7 linked regions of the Homo sapiens genome follow. The protein of the gene in region 3 purifies or fractionates together with the protein of the main gene of each other region. This does not show direct contact. Each region holds a gene or a part of one and is shown on either strand. Other genes may lie near its edges. The genes, in order: UBE4B, WDR97, EYA3, TIMM21, TOMM70, SOAT1 and MTMR3.

Region 1 (3,500 bases), about 18 Mb from region 3:
GTCCATGAGATCAACCTTGTTTTCAAATTTAAAACATGAAATCACTGTGTTGGCCATGCAGAGTGTTTGGTGTGCAGTGAGATGCATCAGTGAAGACAGTTAGCAGCCTGGTACATCTTCCACCTATCCAAGTCCTAGACAGGAGTTAAATGCACTTATTACAATGTACTTTGTATAGCTTATGAAAAAGATAACTTATCTCCTAGCAATGAGCATACCATAGTTGGGATGAAATTTTGTTACTTAAAAAAAAAAAACCTATTAAAAATGCAAATAAAAAAGGCAAAGCTGTACATACTAAGAAAATGAATACAATTTTATCTTTATGTGTTTACTTTGTGCAGAAAATCTCAGTGTAGCTCTCTTGTTCACCCTCCCTGTTTCCTAAGGTCATATTTACTTGGGAAGTAGAAATCTGCTTAGCTCTTTAACGCACTTAGAGCAGGCATACATTGTGGACAGAAGCTTCAGCTAGATTCCCATGGGGAGGCTTGAATGTTGTGAAAATGCTGAAACTAGAATGAAAATTAGAAGCTCCTTTCTGTTCTGAATTCGCTTATTTGAAATTTTGGGAGAAAAGTATTTTGAAGTGTTACTGAATATTTTCGTTGCAGAAGTGTAAAGGAAAAAATATCAAAATGAAATTAGTTTATTCTATGTATAAATTAAGTCTTATGTAAATTGAGACCATGGTTGTTTTTCTTACTGTATTTATTTCTTTTACTTATTCCACTGATTGGATTCCATTATACCATGAATTCATTACTGACGATCTGTTCTGTGCTAGACACTGGTGATACAGAAGCTAGGAAGACAAGGTCCCTCTCCTCAAGGCACTCATAATCTACTGCAAAAATAAGAGCTACAGCGCAACAGTTGAACAGATACTGTGATAAATGTTAAAACAGAGCTGTACACAAAGGGTGTATTTATCTATTTAAAAAATTCAAACCTGTCATGGCACTAAAAGGCTACAAGAATGCTGGGAAATTAGAAGGTGAAACCAGAATTCCTACTTTAAAAAATAATTTTAAGTGGATTTATGCCAGAGCTCTTTCCATTGTACATGTTATTGGGGCTCCTGGTAAAATTATTTGAATCCTTATGTATTGTTCTCCCTGTGGCAGATAAAAGGAAGTGGAATAATCTGATTGTTTGAGTTCAGTGATGAAATATTTTAGTGAACACTAATTATCACCATATTATGTAGATGTTCCTTCATGGGACTGTTGGCTTTTGGGTTGTGGTGTGAATTAGCTTGATGTTTCAGTGAGGAGCTTTTAGCATCTGATATCACCAAAATGTCCTTTTGTTCAAAAGACAGAGGCCTCCATTGTGGTAGACAGTGATTTCATTTTGTGCCATTATTGATGCTTGCATAATAACGAGGACACAGTGAGTGAGAGGGTACAATAATGAGAGGCAGGAAGCGGAAGACTGTTGAAGCTAAAATCAGAAATCATTGTGATCATTCTCTAGGTCAGTGGATCCTGCTGTGCCATACGTTGGAATCACCTTGGAATCAGCTGGGGATCTTTAAAGGTGTTTCTGCCTGGCTCCCCACCCCAGACCTTGTGATTTAATTCACCAGGGGTGTGGCATGGCATTGGGGTTTCCAAAGGCTTCCCATGTGATCCTAATATGCAGCCACGTTTGTGAACTCCTGCACTAGGCAGTGAGAACGCTTCCTTCTGAGTTGAGGCTGCCTGAACCTCAAAGGCATCTCAACGTTGTGTCAATGCCTAAATGCACTCTTCGGCTCATGTAGCAACTTCTAGAGCTGCGTCCGAATCACAGAGGAAATTAACTGTTGAAAATAATGTTTGATTGAGTTACCATGGGCATGCTAAATTATGTTTATGTCCCTAAAAAGTGTTTTTCATCGTTCTCTAATGTTAGGATGGTTGGATGTCTGAAGGAAAGTGTTGGAATTCTTAAAAGTACTAGAAATCTTGAAACCAAGTTATGTTTTTAAATATGTTTTGAATTTGATAGCTTATTAAATTGTAATTATTTATAGTCATGTTTAACACTGGCAAGAGGAGCCATCTAAAGTTTATGAAATAAATCTTTTTGACATGGAAAGATATGAAGTGGAAAAACTTTTTTGTAAAAAACATATATAGATACAGTACACAAAAATATATCTGAAAACTGTTGCTCAAAATATCAATAGAGGTTATCTTTGAGGGTAAAGCTTGAGTAATTTTTAGTTTCATTTTATATTTCTGTTTTATTTCAAGTTTTCACATTGCATGTGTTTTAGTTTATTAATCAGAAAAAGTAGTGAAGCTGCTGCCATTTCAGAGGGAATGCATGTGTGCCATTTTAGAGGGAACGAATTTATAGCAGCAGTTAAAACTGTTTCTTTATGCTACAAATGACAGTCAGTTTAAGATGAAATGCATTTAAATGACTCTGATCTTATTTCTAGGCACTAGGTGAGCTCTGTGAAACCAAGTTTGGGAAGACACACCCTGTGTGCAATTTGGTAAGCACTCACCTGATGGGCTTGCACATTTTCAGTGAATATATCATAACCCAGAAGGCATTCCTCTAGTGAGATGGCCTGGAAAATGTCTCTTGAAGGACATTTAGGTGTAGGCGGAGGTAACGTGTCTGGGAGGCTCTCAACTGTTACATTTTTGTTAGACACGTTATATCCTGCATTACAGTTGTTCATTTCTATGATTTTTTTCCCTTTTTTTTCTAAGAATCTCACTCTGTCACCCAGGCTGGATGGAGTGCAGTGGTGGGATCTTGGCACACTGCAGCCTACGCCTCCTGGGTTCAAGTGAGTCTCGTGCCTCAGCCTCCCAAGTAGCTGGGAATACAGGCATGCATTACCATGCGAGGCTAATTTTTTTGTATTTTTAGTAGAGATGGAGTTTTACCATGTTGGCCAGGCTGGTCTCGAACTACTGACCTCAGGTGATCCACCCGCCTCAGCCTCCCAAAGTGTTGGGTTACAGGCGTGAGCCACCGCACCGGGCCTGTTTTTTTTCCCTTGACAAGTATTGTACAACTAAACTAACAAGAGGTATGGAAAAGTTATTCGAGTCCTTTGGTGGTATAAGAAGAGTTCATTTGAACTTCATCCAATAGTATCCTGAAACTTAAACATTCTTTTTTTTGAGACAGAGTCTCACTCTGTCACCCAGGCTGGAGCGCAGTGGCGCAATCTCAGCTCACTGCAACCTCTGCCTCCTGGGTTCAAGCGATTCTCTTGGCCTCAGCCTCCCCAGTAGCTGGGATTACAGGCGCACACCACCACGCCCGGCTAATTTTTGTATTTTTAGTAGAGACGGGGTTTCTCCATGTTGGCCAGGGTTGTCTCGGACTCCTGACCTCAGGTGACCCACCCCCACCCACACTGGCCTCCCAAAGTGCTGGGATTACAGGCGTGAGCCACCATGCCTGGCTGAAACATAAAAGTTTTAATAATATCTTGTGAAAATACAGAGGAGCTGGAGAGTTTTCATTACATTTTTACCCCACCG
Region 2 (3,500 bases), on a different chromosome or scaffold from region 3:
GGTAGGCTAGGAGGTGGGGAGGGCTGGGGTCTCCTACCTCTGCTCCTCACCAGAGCCCACTGGCTGGACTGAGTGGAGAAGGCCTTGTCCCTGCTGAGCCTCGGCTGCCCTGGGTGCCTCTCCAGGCTCCTGCAGCTGAATGGTGCCCCTCAGGCCCTGGCTTTCTGCAGCAACAGTGGAGACCTGGTGCTGGCGCTGGGATCCCGCCTCTGCCTGGTGTCCCACAGGCTCTACCTGCCTACATCCTACCTAGTTAAGGTGTGTGGTGAGGACAGAGTGAGCAAGGTGGGCCCCCCTTGCTCACCTTGGGGGGCAGACCCAGGTTCCCCCAGCCAGGGATACAGGCTCCTTCCCCTATTCAGAAGATGTGCCGGAAGGCCCCAGACGTGGTGGACGACCCTCCGCTGCCACTGATGAGCCAGGAGTCACTGACTTCCGCCCAACTGCAGAGGCTCACCAACCTCCATGGGGCAGCCAGCCTCAGGTCCCATGCAGGCCTGCTCAGCCCTCCTGGAGGCCCTCCTTTCCCACTCTGGGTGGGGGCCTGGCGGTGTGGGGCCCTCTGGAGTTGATACAAGCCTGCCTGAGCCCTGGCACACCCGTTTGGGGTTGGTCCTTGTCCCAGCCTCTGCCCCAGCCCACTGGCATGCCACCCAGCATCCCACCTGTGCCTGTCCCTGTTTGCAGCGAGGCCTTGTCTCTCATCCATCGTCGGAGGGCAACATCTCAGCACCTGGTGCCGAAGGAGGTGGGGTGGGTCCTCCTTAGCCCGCCCTGCCCCGGCTCAGGCCCCAGCCGTCAGCCCTGGGGCAGGCCTGGGATCCCCATGGTTGCCCGGGCAGCACATAGCAAGGCTCAAGGAAGAGCAGGCTGATCCCTGAACCCTGACTCAGGACTTGGACGCCATAGTGGCCCGGGACCGAGACCTTCAGCAGTTGAGGCTGGGGCTAGTGGTCCCAGCAGCCCAGCCCCCACCCTCCTGGCAGCAGCGCCAGGAAGGCTTTGACAATTACCTCCGTCTGATCTACGGCTCTGGCCTGCTGGTAGGTGTAGGGCCTCCCCCAGCCCAGCCCTGACCCTGGCCCCTCTTCTCCACCCACCCCTCCCACCTGGTCTCTGATGGTCTGTCTGCTCCTGCTACCTCCCAGGGCATGCAGTCTGGAAGGGGGTCCCAGCAGTGGAGTGCCGGGACCCTCAGAGTGGAGAGAGAGACCCGGGATGTGTGTGCTGTACCCCAAGCTGCCCACTGTCTTGCCCGGGCTGAGGTCAGCACTGCAGCCCAAACAGTGCCAACAGCCCTGTCCCCACAGGACCTGGGAGCCCTGGGCCAGCACTTCTCCCAGTCTCCCCGAGTCACAGTGCCGATCCCACCCACCCACCGTAGGGTGCACAGCAAGGCATCCCAGGTGAGGCTTCCCACCCTCCCACATGCCTGCTGGGCCCCCATGACCCCTCTGCCACCCTGTGACTCCTCCTATGCCCCAGCTTCTGGCCCGCTCCTCACTGAGCCACTACCTGGGCATCAGTCTGGATCTGCAGCTGCAGTTGGAGCAGCTCCGAGGGAGGACGACCATGGCCCTGGACCTGCCATCCTCCCACTTGCAGTGCAGGGTGAGGGACCCAGGCAGGTGGGGTACCACCTACTGAGGGGCAGAGCTGCCGGGGTGCTAGGGGCTGTGTTGTTCTGAGCCCCCATTCCATCCCCCAGATCCCACTGCTGCCAAAGAGATGGGACAAGGAACCTCTCTCTAGCCTCAGGGGCTTCTTTCCTGCCACCGTGCAGCCCCACAAGGTGAGACCCCCTCCCAGCTCCTGGAGAGCCACTCCTCTCCAGGCATCACTCTTGTGCCTGCCATCTCCCCTTTGCTACAAATCTTTGTGTCCAAATCTGACCCAAGGGCCATGCCCACCTACAACCAGAGGGCCAGGCTGTAGCCTCCCACGCACCCCTCACCCCTCACCCTTCACCCTCTGTCTAGCCCTGTTCCAGTACAGCTGTGTTTGTGGCCACAGGCTCCTTGCTGCTCTGGGAGCTGACATCAGGCAAAGCCAGTCCCCCCAGCCGGTTATGCCACACACCCCTTTCCCCCGTGGAGGCGCTGGGAGGGCAGGTCCCCTAGGGACTTTTCCTGGAAGATCAGAATCCCTGCCCTTTAGAGGAGCAAAGTCAAGGGAACCTGGCCCTTTAGAATCCACTGTCTTCCCACCCTCACGTACACCAGGTGCCCAGGCAGGCCTCAGCCCCTCCCCCAGCATATTCCTGGCACTGTCACCTGCCCAGGTGGGTAATTGACTCTTTGGGCCTGGGTGCCACCATCATGCTCTTCATTGCCCTTTCTCCAAGCTCCTTCCTTCCTCCCTGGCCCCTGTGCTTCTTTTAGACTTTCTTGTCCCAGGGCTGGGGCCAAGTCCTGTAAGGAGCTTGCAGGGTGTCAGGGCCCCTAGAAGCCAGCACTTCTCCAGGTTTCCCTTCTCGTTTGTCAGAGCTGATGCTCACTGAGGGCCTCGCCCCTGGTATCTCAGGGTTCTCCTGCCATCTGTGTTGAGAGTAGGGGTTGCTAGCTCAGCCAGCTCTCGGAGGCCTGGCAGGCAGAGCTGGACTGGCGGCTGAGGGGCTCTGAGAGGTTATACAGGTGACCAAGGGTGGTGTCCAGGCTGGGGAATCCAGGTCCTCAGCATTCCCTGCTGTGCCCACCTCCAGCACTGCCTGAGGCCCATCTGCTTCCCCGGCTATGTGCCCAACTCCGCGGTGCTACAGCAGATGTGGCTAAATGCGGAGGTCAGCAGCCTCGGATCCCCGACTCAGCTCGCCTCCCAGAGAAAGCTCGAGGCAAGGGGCAGGGCTGGGGGTTTTGCCGGCAGGGGAGGGCTCTGCTGTCCTTGCAACCCATCAGGCACCATCTCTTGCCCCTCTGCAGCCAGGGGCAAGCCAGGATGCCCTGTGGTTGTGGCGCCCCAGGCCATCCCAAACCCAGTGGCAGAGGAAGCTGCTCCAATGGATGGGGGAGAAGCCTGGGGAGGAGGGGGAGGAAGACAAGAAGGAAGAGGAGGAGGAGAAGGAAGACGAGGAGCTGGACTGGGCCTTGGCTTCCCTGAGCCCGCACTCCAACCAGCAGCTGGATTCCTGGGAACTGGAGGATCAGGTAGAGGCTCAGGCAGAGGCCCCAGGCCACCACGGGAGGTGGGCTTACACTGAGACCCAGACAGGTGGGACCTGCAGCCACTGCTGCTCCCCTAGAGTGCTGTGGACTGGACCCAGGAGCCCCGGCGGCGCAGCTGCAAGGTTGCCAGGACCCACCCTCATCCCTGGCACCGTCATGGGAGTTTGCTCTTGGATGAGCATTACGGGCATCTGCCCAAGTTTCTGCATTTCTTCATCTACCAGACCTGGTTCAAAAAGTTGTTCCCCATCTTCAGCCTGCAGGTTGGAGGGAACTGGGGATGCATGAGAAGCATGGGTTAGGGTGAGGGACAGGGGAGAAGGTAGGGGCTGGCTTGGG
Region 3 (3,500 bases):
TTATTTTGGTTTGGTTTGATTATTTTTGGTTCTTTTTTGTCATTTTATTTGCTAATGTACTTTGTCTTACTTGTTTTGTTTGTTTGTTTTTTGGTCCTTGAATCCTGTGTTTACGGAGATGTAGTTTTTTGTTTGTTTGTTTGTTTTTTTGAGACAAAAAACAAAACAAAACCTTGCTCTGTTGGCCAGGCTGTAGTGCAGTGGCACGATCTCGGCTCACTGCAGCCCTGACCTCCTGGGCTGAAGTCATCCTCCCACAGCCTCCAGAATAGCTGGGACTACAGGTTCATGCCACCATACCTGGCTAATTTTGAAATTTTTTTGGAGAGGCAGAGTTTCACCATGTTGCCCAGGCTGATCTCAAACTCCTGGACTCAAGCAATCTGCCTGCCTCGGGCTCTCAAAGTGCTGAGATTAAAGGTGTGAGCCACCACCCACAGGCGGCTGATGTAGTTTTGAAAATTTAAGAAACAAAGTATACCTCCAACAAGTCCTTGTCACTTGTACCTTGTAGCATTATGGTTTCTGTGCTGTGCCTAAGCTGTTTCATGACTTCATTTATTTTGTTTTGATTATAAATAAAAGCCTCATGGAACTTCTTTTTAGGTAGCGGTTTGTCCAAAAGATATTTCTGTTCTGCATGTAACAACAGGATACTTTAGCTCATGTATGATTTAAATGGAGGAAGAATAGTTCAAAATAGAAATGTGTATTTTAAAATATTAGGAATAGTCAGCACTTTGGGAGGCCAAGGCAGGCAGATTGCCTGAGTTCAGGAGTTGGAGAACAGCCTGGGCAACACGGTGAAACCCCATCTCTACTAAAATACAAAAAATTAGCTGGGCGTGGCGGCGTATGCCTGTAGTCCCAGCTACTCGGGAGACTGAGGCAGGAGAATTGCTTGAACCAGGGAGGCGGAGGTTGCAGTGAGCTGAGATCGTGCTACTGCACTCCACCCTAGGCGACAGAGCGAGACTCATCTCAAAAAAAAAAAAAAAAAAAAAAAAAAAAAAAATATATATATATATATATATATATATATATATATATATATTTTGGAATAGTCAATGCTTCCCAGATGTTCATCTAATTGGTTTATACCAAAAGGTTGAATTGTTATATTGATAGTAAGGTGGAAAATAGGTGGACTTTCTGTTTTCTAATTAACTTAAAAATACAAGTGCATATTCTTTTACAAAGTGTATGGCTTAAGCTCTAAACTACCCTGTTGATACTGGTATCTTTTACTGTCAGATAACATAGCAAATAATGGAACATATCATCCTTGATATTTTTATTTAGTTCCATCAACCTAAGTTCCAGGGTAGCTAATTATTAAATGTAGAAGTAATTTAGGCATTTTCTCTGTTCTTTATAGTAGTATATTTAAAAACAGCCATTTAAAATATGGGCTTCCTAAAATTTGTCTTTGCTGTTTTCCCATTTAAGTATGCAATAGTATTTTGAATCAGAAAAGGAATGTGTAGTTTAAATAGTGCCAACTTACTGTAAATAAGTTAACAGATCAGCCCAAGGCAGTCAGTGCTTAATATCGTGAAGATCTTACTACAGATTGTTTTGGATGCACTTTAACTTATTAGCTGTGGTTAATGTTTGTAGCAGTTAGATGGTTTTCATTTTCTTCCCTAGAAAATAATTAGCAATACTCTTTGTAATACATTTATTTCAGCAAATATTGTTTAGGCACCTACTGTGTACAGTTACAGTAATACATATTTAGGCTATTTATGTGGCTAGGTAATATTGTACCAGGCTGATATGTACACTTAAATTCTGAATTTGATCTTATTTGTACATTTCTGAATTAAACGTAAGACAACATAATTAGAATTAAATAAACTTAATTAACATAAAATCATGTTCTTTCGTTATAGATACAATCAAATAATTTTCACTTGGGAAACTTTCACAACTGAACCATGAAACTCTGTAGTGGTAAAACAGTAAAAATAAAAGTGAACTTTATACAGCACTTACTATGTACCAGGAACTATTTTAAGTAGTTTACATGTATTAACTCTTTAATCTTTACAACCCTATGAAATAAGGGTACTATTCTTTTTTTTTTTTGAGACGGAGTCTTGCCCTGTCGCCCAGGCTAGAGTGCAGTGGCACAATCTCTGGTCACTGCAACCTCTGCCTCCTGGGCTCAAGTGATTCTCCTGCCTCAGCCTCCTGAGTAGCTGGGATTACAGGCGTGTGCCACCAAGCCCGGCTAATTTTTGTATTTTTAGTAGAGATGGGGTTTCACCATGTTGGTCAGGCTGGTCTTGAACTCCTGACCTCGTGATCTGCCTGCCTCAGCCTCCCAAAGTGCTGAGATTACAGGCGTGAGCCACCGTGCCCAGCCAAGGGTACTCTTCTTACTATCTCCATTTTACATATAAGGAAACTGAGGTACAGAAGTTATGTAACTTGCCCAAAGTAACACAACTAGTTATCAAAGAGCTGGATTTGAACTTAGTCTTTTTGGCTCCTGAGTTAATCTTATTTGTACAAGGGTCTGCTACTTTAGTGATTTCTTTCTTTATAGGTTGAGGTTAAAAATCTAGTTTGTCTGAAACACAAAAGAATACTGCTTTTGGTTAGGAACCTTAAGGAGGGTTTTACTTGGCCTTTTTACTAATGCTGGCTTAAGGCAAATTGCAAACCTTTTACTACCGATGTTTCTCAGATGGCAAAACCATATATTAAGAAAGCAATAAGGGATCAAATTCCTCCCCCGTTAGAAAAATTATCTTATGGAAGTTAATTACTTTGGAGTTACTTGGAGATAAGTCACTATTTTTTATAAAATGGCCCCTCGAAGTTAATTTTTTTCTTTTACCTTCAGAGTATTAAACAAATTTATGTAATAGTCTTAAAATACTTAAATCTTACCATTCCCATATGAATTTAACAACTTTGAAATATAAAACAGAAGACTAAAACTGAAACATCTGATTTGCCACTGGTCTCATTTCCAAATTTGGAAATTTATGTGAAATTAAGGACATTCATCTCTTCAGGACTATCATGTTTAGAGTACATTCATCTCTTTAGGGCTATCATGTTTAGAGTAGTATATTTAAATTAGTGATTTTATTTTTACTTTAGAAAAGATGAGGGGAACTTTCACAAACAAATTACTTTCTAAATGAGAAGATGCAAATAATAGTCATTTAGAATATTATTGATCATATTAAGATGATTCTTTTGTTCCTTTATTAAGCCCAAATAAAAAAATTTAATCAAATATCTGGGGGAAGGAGATTATTTTATATAAGTTGAGGTGCACCTTAATGCAGGAGTCTTGTACTCAGATAATGATATTATTTTTCTGAATATTTTGAAAACAGTCGAGAATCGTAGAATCTGGTTTACAGAAAAAGTATAAATATTTCTGGTAAGAAGTGACATTTGATTAGGAATACTAATTTTAATTCTCATGTTAACTCTTATTAATTGAGACATTAAGTATACTGTTTTTTTATAGTAGC
Region 4 (2,509 bases), on a different chromosome or scaffold from region 3:
TCCGTTCTTCACAGCTGCCTTCCAGAATGTGTTCAAAAGAAAGACAAGAAGGAGTGTATGGCTTATAAAGTGAATCTAATACAGTATTTGTTGCATTTAAACAAACTAGACATTTTCTTACGGAAAAATTATGAAATACAGCATATTTTATGTTCTCCCATTGACTCAATCATGACAATATTTCTGCTTTAACACCATCTTTCATGATTAGAAATGTTTGTTATTGGAAATGTTACACCATGTAAATAAAGGAAATAGATTTTAGTATTGTATTCATTTTATATTATAGAACTGCATAATGTCTGCAGAATAAAATTAAAACTAACAAATATGTCATTAGCAGCTGCCCTCCGCATACTTTGGAATCTGACTTGAGATAAGCATGTGAAAATGGTTGAGGGCCATAGGGAACCAGATGGTAAATACATTCTTCAAAATTGTGTGAGTTTTAGGAATCTGTCTCATATTTCGCGCTTCATGAATTAAGGGCCTAGTACATAGCGGGAAAAGTACACACTCCCAAGTTGGGTAGACCTGGGCACCCACCCCACCTTTTCTAGCAGGTGCGTGGTCAAGTGTCCCTGTTGTGTGGGTTGTTAGGATGGCAGTGTGATGAGAGGTACAAGCCTGGACCATAGAAGGCAGCCATGAAGTGCCCTCATCCCCTTTAGAACTTACTTGCACTGATACTTCTGACTGCCAAAAGAACATGGGAGTGAATGAGAGACATTCAAATACGTGTGTGAGGCCCCTTAAAGAAAAAAAAAAAAAAAAAGGAAATTCTATTTTATTTGAAATATTTGCTGGGGATTTGGAAAAAAGTGACCTTCACTTACAAGATCCTGATTCCATATCTATGTAAGTGCTATGTGCATTGGGAGGGGTCTAGAACCATGTTTATCTGCGGTGGCTTCAGTGTGAGGTATCCCCTCTGATGTGTTTGTTCCTTCTCCCCGAGAACTGTCTGTAGAGGAATTTCTGATGTGTTCTTGAAATTTTGGGATATTCAGGATAGAGAGACCTCCAGGCAATCTATCTCCCCTTTTTACTTTATCTCCCTGCTTAATTTAGTTAGTTTCTTGGTTTGACTGCTTGTTTTAGATGTTTTTAATTATAAAAATTTCCAACATTTAAGGAGTATAGAAAATATAACAGACACTCGTCTCCCTGACGTAACACACTTTGACTGAATGAGGCCTTAACTTAGGCTTTCTCTCCTAATCGTTTTTTCCTTTGCTATAGAATGTTCAGTTTCAGGATTCACTGAAATGTCAACATTTAACAGGCTGAGAAGTTCCACTTGCTATCCTAAACTCAAAAAAGCAGCCCTGCTCTTCAAACAACCTGCTCAAACTGTAGCTTGCTGAAGAAGCCCGGCATCTGAGCTCAGGTGGGGATTTAGCCACCCTCCATGGCCCTGTCATTTGACTTAAGACTGTTTGCTTTTTCTGTATTCATTTTTATGCACCTGCCATTTTACAATATGCTCATGCCCCTTTAAGATCTGAGCTTTTGGCCAGGCGAGGTGGCTCATGCCTATAATCCCAGCACTTTGGGAGGCTGAGGCAGGTCAATCACTGGAGGTCAGGAGTTCAAGACCAGCCTGGCCAACATGGTGAAACCCTATCTACTAAAAATTCAAAAAAAAAAAAATTAACCAGGCACGTTGACACACTCCTGTAATCTCATCTACTCAGGAGACAGGAGAAGCGCTTGAACCCAGGAGGCAGAGGTTGCAGTGAGCCAAGATCATGTCACTGCACTCCAGCATGAGTGACGGAGTGTGACTTCGTCTCAAAAAAAAAAAACAAAAAACAGATCTGAGCTTTTATAATTAGAAATAAAACTAAATTACTTTTTCAAAAGGAAAAACTCTGTACCAATAAGAGATTCTTCTGTATAGCCACAGGAAAATGTGATGTGTAACTCTCTAGATCTCTGTTTTCATTCCCTCTGATGTACCCTACTAAATGTTAAAATTTCTGTGTTTTAAGACCCTCTTTAATCCACTTTGATTGTGGTGTCTCTGTCCATGGGCTTACTCCCACTTTTTCTCTGAATTCTAGGGCACTTATCTGACTCTGCCTGGTATCCCCTTCCGTCATATTTGTGAATTTGCAAATGCTCTGGTCATTTTCCTCCAAGGCCTCTGTCATTCCTCCACACCTGATCAGTGAACTCTTTTCACAACTAACTCTAGAGCAGACTCTCCTGTCACTGTTTGCTCTTCCTCCTTAATGAAGAAATTATATGCAAGGCAAGAGTTTATCAGAAGTTCTGCTTTTAGCCCCGTGAGATTTCCAGCCTAACTACCCTGCAAGCTCCCTTCATAACTATTGTTGATCAATGCTAGTAATACTTTATCCATTTATTTCCATTTGGTAAGCCATTACAATATTACTTCTGTTTCTCTTATTCTCATCCAGAGACAGTTCCCCAATTCCTAATTCATAGATTTCTACTCAGGGTTACACTTACTATTTATTTTATATAGTACCACTCATGTGTT
Region 5 (3,500 bases), on a different chromosome or scaffold from region 3:
TAACATTTCATTGTGGTTTCAGCCACCCCACCTCATCCCAGGGGATCTGTACCATTGGTATTTGATAAAACCTAGCCATCTCCTTTTCACATTTTAGATGTCCTAATTCCTCTTTTCCACGTTGTCTGGATCAACACTGATGATTTTTTAATTTCATGATATTTCAGAGTTTTTTAGTTTTACAAATAACTTTTTTTTTTTGATACGGAGTCTCACTCTGTCACCCAGGCTGGAGTGCAATGGCGAGGTCTCGGCTCACTGCAACCTCTGCCTCCTGGGCTCAAGAGATTGTCCTGCCTCAGCCTCCCAAGTAGCTGGGATTACAGGCACGCACCACCACGCCTGGCTAATTTTTGTATTTTTAGTAGAGACAGGGTTTCACCATGTTCGCCAGGCTGGTCTCAAACTCCTGACCTCGTGATTCACCCGCCTTGGCCTCCCAAAGTGCTGGGATTACAGGCATGAGCCACTGCCCCTGACCACAAATAACTTTTTATTCACCTGACTGCTGTTAAAAATTAGAATTTAAGATTGGACTCTTTGTGTAACTTAAACTGCTTTAAAATGATTTATTTTTGGCCCCAAATAAAATAAGGCAAAACATTTGCACTTACCATTGTCCATCTTGTGGAATATGTAGGCCTACACCTGTAATCTTTGAATTACTAGATTGTTCTTTGGTAAAGCAACAATAGGAAGGTCTTTGTGATTTTTTTAAACTGGAAATTTATATCTTAACTGTTGGTGACCAGTAAATATTGAAAGACTACTTTTGTCTTCTTTTAATAGTCTGGTCCTTAGAGTTATTATTAGACTATCTAAATGTAATTAATTGATCAGTAATTGTAATTTCTTATCTGTGGTTGGATAAACTGCTGTACATTTGAATAGCACCTCTAAATTGGCATCCTCGGTGGATTTCGCAACCAGAAGCATTTGCTTTCACTGATGGAAACCTGGCAGAATCCTGATGCCCTAACTGTCCTTTCTCCACCTGAGCAATAGCTACAGTTTTTAAAGGAATGAATAAATAGACAAATATTGTCTGTTTAGGGTTTGATATCAGAAAATAGAATGGAAAATCTGTATTTTTGTCTTTTGGCTTATGTTTACCTTAATGTAAAATGATCTGATAGAATTACTGGACTTCTGTCTATTGGGTTGGAGATTTTCCTTTACAATTAGTGTGCACAATTACCTTTTTTCTGGGATAGCAAAAACTTGTAAAGGAAGTGCAAAGGATATTCATAGTTGTTTTAATTAATGGGAATATTGGGGTATCACTGAAGAAAAGCATTTAGTCACAGTTGATAGTGTCTAAGACTGAGGTGCTTAAAGTATTAGATCATATTCCATTTTGAACTATTATAAAATCTACCATGATGTGCCATTTTGCTTCAGTAATTTTTTTAAACTTGAAGAATTAAAAAAAAATTTTAAATTGCAAGGCTTTTTAGAAGATCATATTATCCATAGTGCTTCTCAATCTGTGGGCTTGAGTCATCACGAGGGACCACCACACATATATTCCAAGCATGGTATCCTGGCTGTACCAATGTCCCAGATACTTCTTTTTCAAACATCCTGTGATTTTCTAGAAAAATGCACTTATTTAAAAGCATTATTGACTTCATTGTAACTTTTTTGTCCAATTGTTATTTAATCTGATGATAAAAAATGCATCATTCTTGTGTTCATATTTAGCATTAAATATGTTTAGCCCATGAAATGAGTTTAGCCCACATGAAATGGTTAGGAACCAATAATCTAAGCCAGCCTACTACAGTAGGAAAGGGAAGATGTACCTACACATTTTAGTAAAGGGTCGAGGACTGCATAAACTGTTGTTATTGGTCATCTTGTTTGAAATGAAGTCATTCTCTCCCCCAAATGATCTGTTTTGAGTCATTTTTAAAAAATCAATCAGGGACACCAATGACATTCCCTCTAAGCTTAGTTAACACTTTTCAATCTTAATCCTTGGCAGTATTTCATATTGTGCTCTAAATGTCATAACTTTTCCTGCTGCTTCTGAGGTACTCCATTTTCCTGATTTAAAAAAAAAAAAAAAAAAACCTGATACCAGCCTCATGGATTCTTAGTCTCCTTATCACAATACAGAGGTCATTTCATCTTTTCTGAAACTTCTCTCTACCTAAGCACACCACTATGTGATTTTATAACACCCTGGACTTTTCCATTTTATAGCACTTACCACGTGGTACTAGAATTGCTTATTGCTGTTTCCTGCTATGCTCTTGAATCTGTGAAGGCTGAGACTGGCTCTATCTTGTTCACCATTGTATTGCCAGAACCTAATACAGGTGCATAGCAAGTGTTGAATGAATGAAGTTTCATTTTTTGACTAATAATTAAGGGTTCCTTTGACATCCCTAAGTTTATATTTTATATATGTGTGTGTGTATGTATATATAAATTTCACAAGTGGTATATTTTTCAAATTTTCCAGCTCTTCATTTTTGTTCTACCAGTTAATGCTGGATTCCGTGGAAATCTTTTTTCCTTTCTCTTTTTTTTTTTTTTTTTGAGTTGGAGTCGCGCTCTGTCACCCAGGCTGGAGTGCAGTGGTGCAATCTCTGCTCACCGCAACATCCGCCTCCTGGGTTCAAGTGATTCTCCTCCCTCAGCCTCCTGAGTAGCTCGCCACCATGCCTGGTGAATTTTTTGTTTGTTTGTTTTGGGTTTTTTTGTTTGTTTTTTGAGATGGAGTCTCACTCTGTTGCCCAGGCTGGAGTGTAGTGGCGCAATCTCGGCTTACTGCAACCTCTGCCTCCCGGGTTCAACCGATTCTCCTGCCTCAGCCTCCCGAGTAGCTGGGATTACAGGCGAGTGCCACCACACCCTGCTAATTTTTTGTATTTTTAGTAGAGACAGAGTTTCACCATGTTAGCCAGGATGGTCTCAATCTCCTGACCTCATGCTCTGCCTGCCTCGGCCTCCCAAAGTGCTAGGATTACAGGCGTGAGCCACCGCGCCTGGCCGTAAATCTTAAACCTCATTTGGGCATACTTTTTGTAAATCAGTTGATTATGCATGACCTACAATCATAATCCTGCAGAAGCAGTCATTATAAAAGTATATTCTTCCTAGGTAAAGAGTTATTATGATTTAGTAGGTGGGGTTGGTTGTCATTTTTAAAATTTCCAGACGTGAAATGGGAAAGGACTTTTTTATTATCTTAGGTTTTATTCCTTATTAGGTTTGAATCCTTATTATCTTAGGTATTATTATCCTAGGTTTGATTCATATGAAAGTAACAATTGGTTGGCCAGGTACAGTGGCTCACACCTGTAATCCCAGCGCTTTGGGAAGCTGAGGCAGGTGGATCACCTGAGGGCAGGAGTTCAAGACTGGCCTGGCCAACATGGTGAAACCCCATCTCTACAAAAATACAAAAATTAGCCGGGCATGATGGTGGGTTTCTGTAATCCCAGCTACTCAGGAGACTGAGGGGAGAGGATCACTTGAACCCGGGAGGT
Region 6 (3,500 bases), about 150 Mb from region 3:
GGAGGGAAGGAAAGAAGGAAAGAAGGGAAGGGAAGGGAAGGGAATGGGGTGGGGGGAGAGGAGGGGAGGGGAGGAAGAAATAATGAACAAAAGAAATTACATACTTGATTTCTCCTTAGCTGAATTTAGTACCCGAGGCACGTTCTCTCTGACAAATGAGTGGGCCTTCATTACAAAACGAATCTACAAAAGCAGGAGGAAAAAGATGTCTCTTCAAAGAAAGTCTCCTGCAAGTGTCCTTTCCATTAGTCAAATGCATTATAGATAGCCAGTAAAGTCAGAAAATCCTGATAAGTGTATAAACAAATTAAAATAAAACCTTTATTATATAGTTACATGACAAAACAATGAATCTGACATTTCAAAAGTGAAGTTTTTAATTATGAAAATATTTTATAATTTAAATGACTTTTACAAAAAGTATTCAGAAACAAAATCTTGATGCATCAAAAATAATTCAATGTGGCCGGGCGCGGTGGCTTACGCCTGTAATCTCAGCACTTTGGGAGGCCGAGGCAGGCGGATCGTAAGGTCAGGAGTTTGAGACCAGTCTAGCCAATATGGTGAAACCCCATCTCTACTAAAAATACAAAAATTAGCCGGGTGTGGTGGCAGGCGCCTGCAGTCCCAGCCACTTGGGAGGCTGAGGCAGAAGAATCACTTGAACCTGGGAGGCAGGGGTTGCAGTGAGCCGAGATGGTGCCACTGCACTCCAGCCTAGGTGACAGAGCGAGACTCTGTCTCAAAAAAAAAAAAAAAAGTTCAACGTAATTTATTTATCAAAATTCAGAGAACATGGAAGCTACAATGAAACTTAAGAGGTGAGATGATTCTAGTTTAACAATTTTACAGATAATGGCAAAAGAACAATATATGAAAATTTATCCAAGTTAATACAGCTAAAAATAATAGTATCAGTATGTCATCATCATTATTATTATTTTAGCCGAGGACAGCATCGCCTTGGGTAACACTTAAAACCTTACCTGCTCGAATATAATGATGAACCGGGAAGCTGGTGGCAGTGTATATGCTAACACAACATATGTTGGTCCAAAACCTAGAACTCCAATCTGGAAGATCATGAAAAGAAAGCCATGGAAGAGAGAACGGATCAGCGGATGAGAACTCTTGCTATAGCCAGTGGCCCAATGTTGAAACAGAAAATAGGGAACTGAAAATGTAGACAGGAACATGATCCACCAGGTCCAAACAACGGTAGGAAATTTGCCAAAAGCATAAGACAGGAGGCTGAACTCAAGCACCAGCCTGGGGAGAAAAGGTACAGAAAAAGAACATAGAGGTGAATTTTTAATATACACTGAGTTCACAGAATTTAAAAGTTTCAAACACCAAACTTTCAACCTTAGGAAACACCACAACGTTAATACGCTGAAGTCATGGATGTAATAGTTCTGCTAGTTAGAGATCTGCTTCTAACCATCTGCTTTACAATATATATATATATATATATATCAACAATATATGTTCTTTAGAAACAAATTTTCTAAAAGCCCTAAGATAAATACAGTCTTCAAACTTAAGATATCTAAGATAATTGGACTTTGAACTTCTGAAAGATTAGATTCTCACATTAATTTTCTAACTGTAAAATATTCTATGGAAAATATTCAAACAGCAATCGTTCTTATGTACAAAAGATGATTTTTCAGAAGAAATAGGTACAATTTAAAAATATGTTAATATACTATACCATTATCTCCAAACTTAATTTTCAAAAAAAGTACATAATTCAATCCATGATTACCACGCTGTCATTTTTTAAGCTACAATTTGAGTTTTAAAATTTTATTTTGAGATCTGGTCTCCTTTGCATCCAGGCTGGAGTGCAGTGGCACAAACACAGCTCCACTGCAGCCTCAACCTCCCTGGCTCAAGCGATCCTCCTATCTCAGCCTCCTGAGTAGCTGGAACTACAAGTGTCTGCCACCACGCCCAGCTAATTTTTAAATTTTTTGTAGAGATGTTGCCCAGGCTGGTCTCCAACTCCTAAGCTCAAGTGATCCTCCCGCCTCGGCCTCCCAAAGTGCTGAGATTACAGGCACAAGCAACCATGCCTGGCCTATAATTTGACTTTCACATTAAAAAGAAATATCAACTTTTTCAACCTTCAATTCCAATAAGCTACTTGTTTTAAGTAACCATCTTAAATAAAGACAATCAAAAAGTTAATAAGTCATATACAGTTATCCCTCCCTATACATGGGGGGTTGGTTCCAGGAAACTGTGCAGACACCAAAACTTATGCAAATTCGAGGCCCACAGTTGGCCCCGTGGAACCCACAGATATGAAAAATCTGCCATTCTTATATGTGTGTTTTGCATCCTGGAATACTCTAGATCCCAATCAGCCTTTGCTTGCAGATGTAGAACCCATGGATACAGAGTGCTAAACACATTGATTGAAAAAATTCTGTGTATAAATAGACATGCACAGTTCAAACCCGTGCTGTTCGTAGGTCAACTGTGTATAAAGTTCTCCCATTTGGGAAAATTACCTAGAAATTACTGATTATGGTCTATTCAAATAAACCATTTTAAAAATAAAAGTAATGAAACTTCTAATTTTCTCCATCAGTTAAACTTTTCAGGGCAAAGGAATATCACCCTCAAATCTGCTGCTTTAGGATTTCCTGAAGCAATTTAATCAATTTACCCTTTACCAAAATTTAGTGAAAACCTCTAACTTCTCATGCATCAACTAGCCAGCCATCTTTTTTGTTGTCTTACCTTCCTTCATCAATGTAATCTACTACAAGTGTGCTGAGGATAAAGAGAATGAGGAGGGCAATAAACATGTGATATATTGTTCTGATGTGGTCCACTTCAAGCAGTTCACTGTAAATGTAGTTCAAACAAAACAAGTTAATAATGTATATTTAAATTTAAAACACCATAAAATCTTTTCTTAAAGCAGTTAACTTAAAGCAGTTGAGAAGATGCTTAATCCACTCTCCAAAAACATCTCAAAAAAGAATGGTCTACATTCTTTAAAACCTACCAGAAATGGATGTTTTCTAAGTAAACAAAGGCCAGTCACTAAAAACAGGAAACAAACTATTTCAAATGTTAAGAATTTTTTAATCCTATTCATATTCTACTCCCTAAATTTAATATATATTAAGTACTACCTATTTCCAAAATGTTAAAATTGACATGAGTTTCTATAATGTTGATCATGATGATGATGATAACCAATTACTACCCTACACGTCTATAAAACTCAACCATTTACAAAGATTTTACCTTCTCATTGACTTTTGTATTTAAGACTGGTCTAATTTTCTTTTAGAATATAACAATAATATAGATGACTTTTCCTAAATAATCTTTTATATCTGACTAAAACAGGTTTTTAAACTTGTTTTAACTTGTTTTTGGAAAGATAATGCTAATCTTTTAAATGATTTTGAGTAATCTAATATACTACTACTCAATCTCTGGACCAAGGATCTTCACAGTCTAATAAAAACTCATCT
Region 7 (3,500 bases), on a different chromosome or scaffold from region 3:
AGCCAGAAGGCACTGTCGCACGCATAGCAGTGGGCGGCCAGGTGGTCAGGAAGCCAACGGGTCATCTGCAAAACAGATGGGACCAGGTTACTGACAGGAGATGGGCCATCCAGCTGGAGCCAGCAGAGCCATGCTGGGGGCAGCAAGAGTCACAAGGACCACATCAGCTCCAGTGGCACCAGCCCAGCAGATCTGATGTCAACAGTACAAGAAAGGCGTCCAAATCGTTTCCCTGGAGGGGACTCCAATCTCCCCTGAGATAAAGTAGCAGGCAGCAGCACCCTGGGTCACTGTGAGAGCTGGCAAGGCTCCAGTTCATAGAGGCAATGAAGAGGGAGGGCCAGCTTGCTGAGTCTCCCTGGCTCAGAAATCCTAGGCTTCATGTGGGTTCCCAGGAGCTAAGGTGCCAGAGGCTCAGGGCTAGCTGTGCTGGGAGGTGCTTCCTTGGCCAGGGGTATGGGGTGGGAATGGGGGTGGAGAAGAACCACAAAACAGTTAAATTGATGGCACTCAGAGCAGGGGCTGAGCCTGTACCTCTGTGTCCTGTTTATCCACCTGCTCCCAGCTGGCTTCAGAGAAAATCTCTGTGCTGCAGCGAGACAAACAGTTCTGATCCAGATTGCTTTCCGAGTCGGGGATTGAAGTCTGTTGGCAAACAAACACAGCTGAACAGAATGAACCTGGTCTCCTCCCAAAAGAAGAAAAGGCCTGGTGAAGAAGGGAGAACTGAGGACTCTGGGTGGGGCCGAGTGCTAGGACTGCCGAATCTGCAGATGCATCAGCCATCAAGAACTGGGGTGAAGAAGTGCAGTGTGGGCCTGGGCTCAGCTGGGAGAGGGATACACAGGTTGTGTGCAGTGACTCTGGAGTAGAAAAACAGGCCCTCAGGGTTCCAGAAAGTGAGTGAGAGGGAAGTGACCAAAATGGAATGAGAATTCTGTATGTCAGCTGCTCCAGTGGGCCTGTCAATCCAACCCTGCCTGCCACTAAGTTAAAGCTGAGTGCTTTCGGGATGCCCTCCTTTTCTTAGAAGGACTCTCTGGGAACATGAGAAACTATCATTAGCATGAAGGAAAAGCCAAGTCACTCTGAACTGAAAGTCACTGGATGTGCCCGCCTTTAATGTACGCTGACCACTTGAGAGCCAGGCTCACACTTGTACTTGAGCTGCCTGAGTCAAGTCCACCCAGAGAGGAAAGCACCTCCTTGAGAACCTCCCCCTCTGGAACCCCCATTTCCAGCCACAAACCCCCATCAGAGCTAACTCCTCAACAGTGCTAGAAACCAGTCCCTTCTCTCCATTTCTACTGGCAGCATCTGCCACAGGATGGGTATAAATATTTGTTTAAAAAGAACTGAACCTTCAAAGCCATAGCCCACGTCTGGAAGGACTAATACTTTGTAGTTACTAAGGCAGAACAGGCACTAAAATCTGACAGGAATAACTTGGCATTGCCCTACAGATGTCATTCTGCCCATGGGTTCAAGCCCTTCTGAAGACTTATGATCCTGTGTCTGAGAGATCTGATCAACCATGCAGTGCATGCTAAGTCTCTTCCTCTCCAACGGCCTCAACAGGACATCTGCAGAAAGTAAGCGAAGCAGAAAACAGGCAGGCTGCCATCGCTGTCGTGGAGGCTCATCTCCAGCCTCTCTTAACAGGGCTACTCTGGACCTTTCCAATCCTTTAACAACCTGTACCAATCACCATGCACTGGGCACAAAGGGCACCCAGCCTCAGCATGCCGTCTCCTTGGGCAGCTATGGAGGAATACCACAGCCTACTCACCACCTCATCCCCAAAGTCTCCATTAAAGTGTAGGGAGCTGGTCAGGTACTGGCTCTCCAGGCGACTCTTCAGCTCCTGGACTTGTTTCTTCAAAGTTTCTACTTCCTGCTGGTGGCCTGACTCAATCTGACGCAGGCGCTGTTGGATCGTGTCTGTGTACACTGACATGCCATCATCGTCCAGGTGGCTGCGGGAAGGCTGGTCGGGGCTGCTGGTTGCAGATGGCCTTCCTGAGTGGCTATGCAGCCACTTGTGGTGCAAGTTCCTTGAGTGTAAGTGGGCAGAGCTGCAGCTCATAGCAGACAGCTGACGGCTCAGTGAGTCCTTGCTCCTACCAGCCTCCCCATTGGCGCAATGCCCATTGGGTGTGGGGTACATCTGGAGGGTGCTAAGACCTGGGGGCTGCTCTGAGGCCCTGTTTTCAGTCTCTGGGGCACCATTGCACACAAGCCCCTCTTTACATTCGGCTAAAGGCAAGGCACAAGGGGAACGTGTCAGGCTGAGAGTGCTGCCAAGGGAAGTCCTATGCACCACAGACCCCACTTGGGGCCTCTCGACCAGGCTTGTCTCTGAAGGGCTGGGTTCCATGGTCTGAGGAAGCCTGTCCTTGCCACTATTTACAAGGCAAGATCTATGATGACCTTGGGGCCCACTTACTGACTTCACCTTATCTTCCACTAACATGTCTGTAGAACTGTCCACGTTTGGTCCTCTGGTCTCAAAAGGGACTTGGGAAGGTAGCAGAGAACATGACTGTGAGGTACCATAGCCAACTTTTGCATCTACTGGGATTGGAAGAACTGCTTCCTCCCTACCCTCTGCAATCTCTTCTATTCGAAACTGCTCCACAGGGACCTCCAGGGAATCCTCTCCCCTGGGGGGGACCTGGAGAGAACTGAGGAGAACACTGAGCCCACTCTGCTGTTCAGAAATGCCCTGTGAGAACAGAGGCCAGCTCATATCCAGATGGCTCCTCAGAGCAGCATCACCCAGTTCTGGGTCTTGGTGAAGTCCAATGGCTGAGGCCTCAGGTGTCTTCCTCCTGCTCTCCTTTTCTAAGAGAGGGTCCTCTTTACCCTCCTGTATCTCAATGCCTGCCCTGTGGGCAGGTTCCTCTACTCCACTCTCCTCTTTGGTGGCCTCCTGCAAGATGTTCTCCATCTGCCCCTCAGCTACTCCGGCTGCAACAGAAAGCTCGGCACCCCCCGGCACTCTGGTGGGCTTCCCTAGGCTGTCGGCAGAAAGGGGATCCTCTCCAGGGCCAGCCAGGCTGCTCAGCTCTAGTGAGCGCCGGTGCTCCTGCCACTTCTCGTTCAGGCTGGGGTCGCTGCAGCGCCGGCTGGCCAGAGGCACTGTGTTGTCACAGGCTGTGGTCAGATTGTCGTATGATCTAGTCTTTGGTAGCCTAAAGGAAAGGAATTTGGGGGAAATGAAAATCTTGGAAACTGTTTGGAGGAAGTAGGAGACAATAGGTTTTAACAAGCAGTTGTTTCATAACTGGGTCCATTATGGCTACTCATGGAGCTGTAGCATCTCTGGAGCGAGGCCCAGACTGCTGGAGCAGCAAAGCTCCGGAACAAGTCCTCCTAGTGTGCAGATTTCCTTTCAAACTCCCCCAACCCCATGCCCCATACATACAAATGAGCTAACAGCAAGTGCTATTTTCTTTTTTTTTTTTTTTTGAGACGGAGTCTCACTCTGTCGCCCAGGC

Evidence for each region.
Region 1: the proteins of EYA3 (region 3) and UBE4B purify together in Homo sapiens (affinity purification with mass spectrometry; one large-scale study listed by BioGRID and IntAct). This does not show direct contact.
Region 2: the proteins of EYA3 (region 3) and WDR97 purify together in Homo sapiens (affinity purification with mass spectrometry, with the first as the bait; one large-scale study listed by BioGRID). This does not show direct contact.
Region 4: the proteins of EYA3 (region 3) and TIMM21 purify together in Homo sapiens (affinity purification with mass spectrometry, with the first as the bait; one large-scale study listed by BioGRID). This does not show direct contact.
Region 5: the proteins of EYA3 (region 3) and TOMM70 purify together in Homo sapiens (affinity purification with mass spectrometry, with the first as the bait; one large-scale study listed by BioGRID). This does not show direct contact.
Region 6: the proteins of EYA3 (region 3) and SOAT1 purify together in Homo sapiens (affinity purification with mass spectrometry, with the first as the bait; one large-scale study listed by BioGRID). This does not show direct contact.
Region 7: the proteins of EYA3 (region 3) and MTMR3 purify together in Homo sapiens (affinity purification with mass spectrometry, with the first as the bait; one large-scale study listed by BioGRID). This does not show direct contact.

The regions. Positions count from the first base shown.
Region 1 is NC_000001.11:10,126,958-10,130,457, forward strand, and holds part of UBE4B (ubiquitin conjugation factor E4 B), read left to right. Parts: intron 1-2,434; coding exon 2,435-2,491; intron 2,492-3,500. UniProt on the Homo sapiens protein: Ubiquitin-protein ligase that probably functions as an E3 ligase in conjunction with specific E1 and E2 ligases. May also function as an E4 ligase mediating the assembly of polyubiquitin chains on substrates ubiquitinated by another E3 ubiquitin ligase.
Region 2 is NC_000008.11:144,110,739-144,114,238, forward strand, and holds part of WDR97 (WD repeat-containing protein 97), read left to right. Parts: coding exon 1-1; intron 2-125; coding exon 126-258; intron 259-362; coding exon 363-484; intron 485-687; coding exon 688-748; intron 749-893; coding exon 894-1,043; intron 1,044-1,148; coding exon 1,149-1,406; intron 1,407-1,485; coding exon 1,486-1,611; intron 1,612-1,708; coding exon 1,709-1,792; intron 1,793-2,701; coding exon 2,702-2,779; coding exon of another isoform or gene 2,780-2,830; intron 2,831-2,918; coding exon 2,919-3,143; intron 3,144-3,238; coding exon 3,239-3,424; intron 3,425-3,500.
Region 3 is NC_000001.11:28,082,111-28,085,610, reverse strand, and holds part of EYA3 (protein phosphatase EYA3), read left to right. Parts: intron 1-3,500. UniProt on the Homo sapiens protein: Tyrosine phosphatase that specifically dephosphorylates 'Tyr-142' of histone H2AX (H2AXY142ph). 'Tyr-142' phosphorylation of histone H2AX plays a central role in DNA repair and acts as a mark that distinguishes between apoptotic and repair responses to genotoxic stress.
Region 4 is NC_000018.10:74,158,523-74,161,031, forward strand, and holds the end of TIMM21 (mitochondrial import inner membrane translocase subunit Tim21 precursor), read left to right. Parts: 3' UTR 1-2,009; downstream 2,010-2,509. UniProt on the Homo sapiens protein: Participates in the translocation of transit peptide-containing proteins across the mitochondrial inner membrane.
Region 5 is NC_000003.12:100,394,590-100,398,089, reverse strand, and holds part of TOMM70 (mitochondrial import receptor subunit TOM70), read left to right. Parts: intron 1-3,500. UniProt on the Homo sapiens protein: Acts as a receptor of the preprotein translocase complex of the outer mitochondrial membrane (TOM complex). Recognizes and mediates the translocation of mitochondrial preproteins from the cytosol into the mitochondria in a chaperone dependent manner.
Region 6 is NC_000001.11:179,338,797-179,342,296, reverse strand, and holds part of SOAT1 (sterol O-acyltransferase 1), read right to left. Parts: intron 2,860-3,500; coding exon 2,752-2,859; intron 1,270-2,751; coding exon 987-1,269; intron 288-986; exon of another isoform or gene 184-287; coding exon 105-183; intron 1-104.
Region 7 is NC_000022.11:30,019,174-30,022,673, reverse strand, and holds part of MTMR3 (phosphatidylinositol-3,5-bisphosphate 3-phosphatase MTMR3), read right to left. Parts: intron 3,195-3,500; coding exon 1,790-3,194; intron 646-1,789; coding exon 535-645; intron 66-534; coding exon 1-65. UniProt on the Homo sapiens protein: Lipid phosphatase that specifically dephosphorylates the D-3 position of phosphatidylinositol 3-phosphate and phosphatidylinositol 3,5-bisphosphate, generating phosphatidylinositol and phosphatidylinositol 5-phosphate.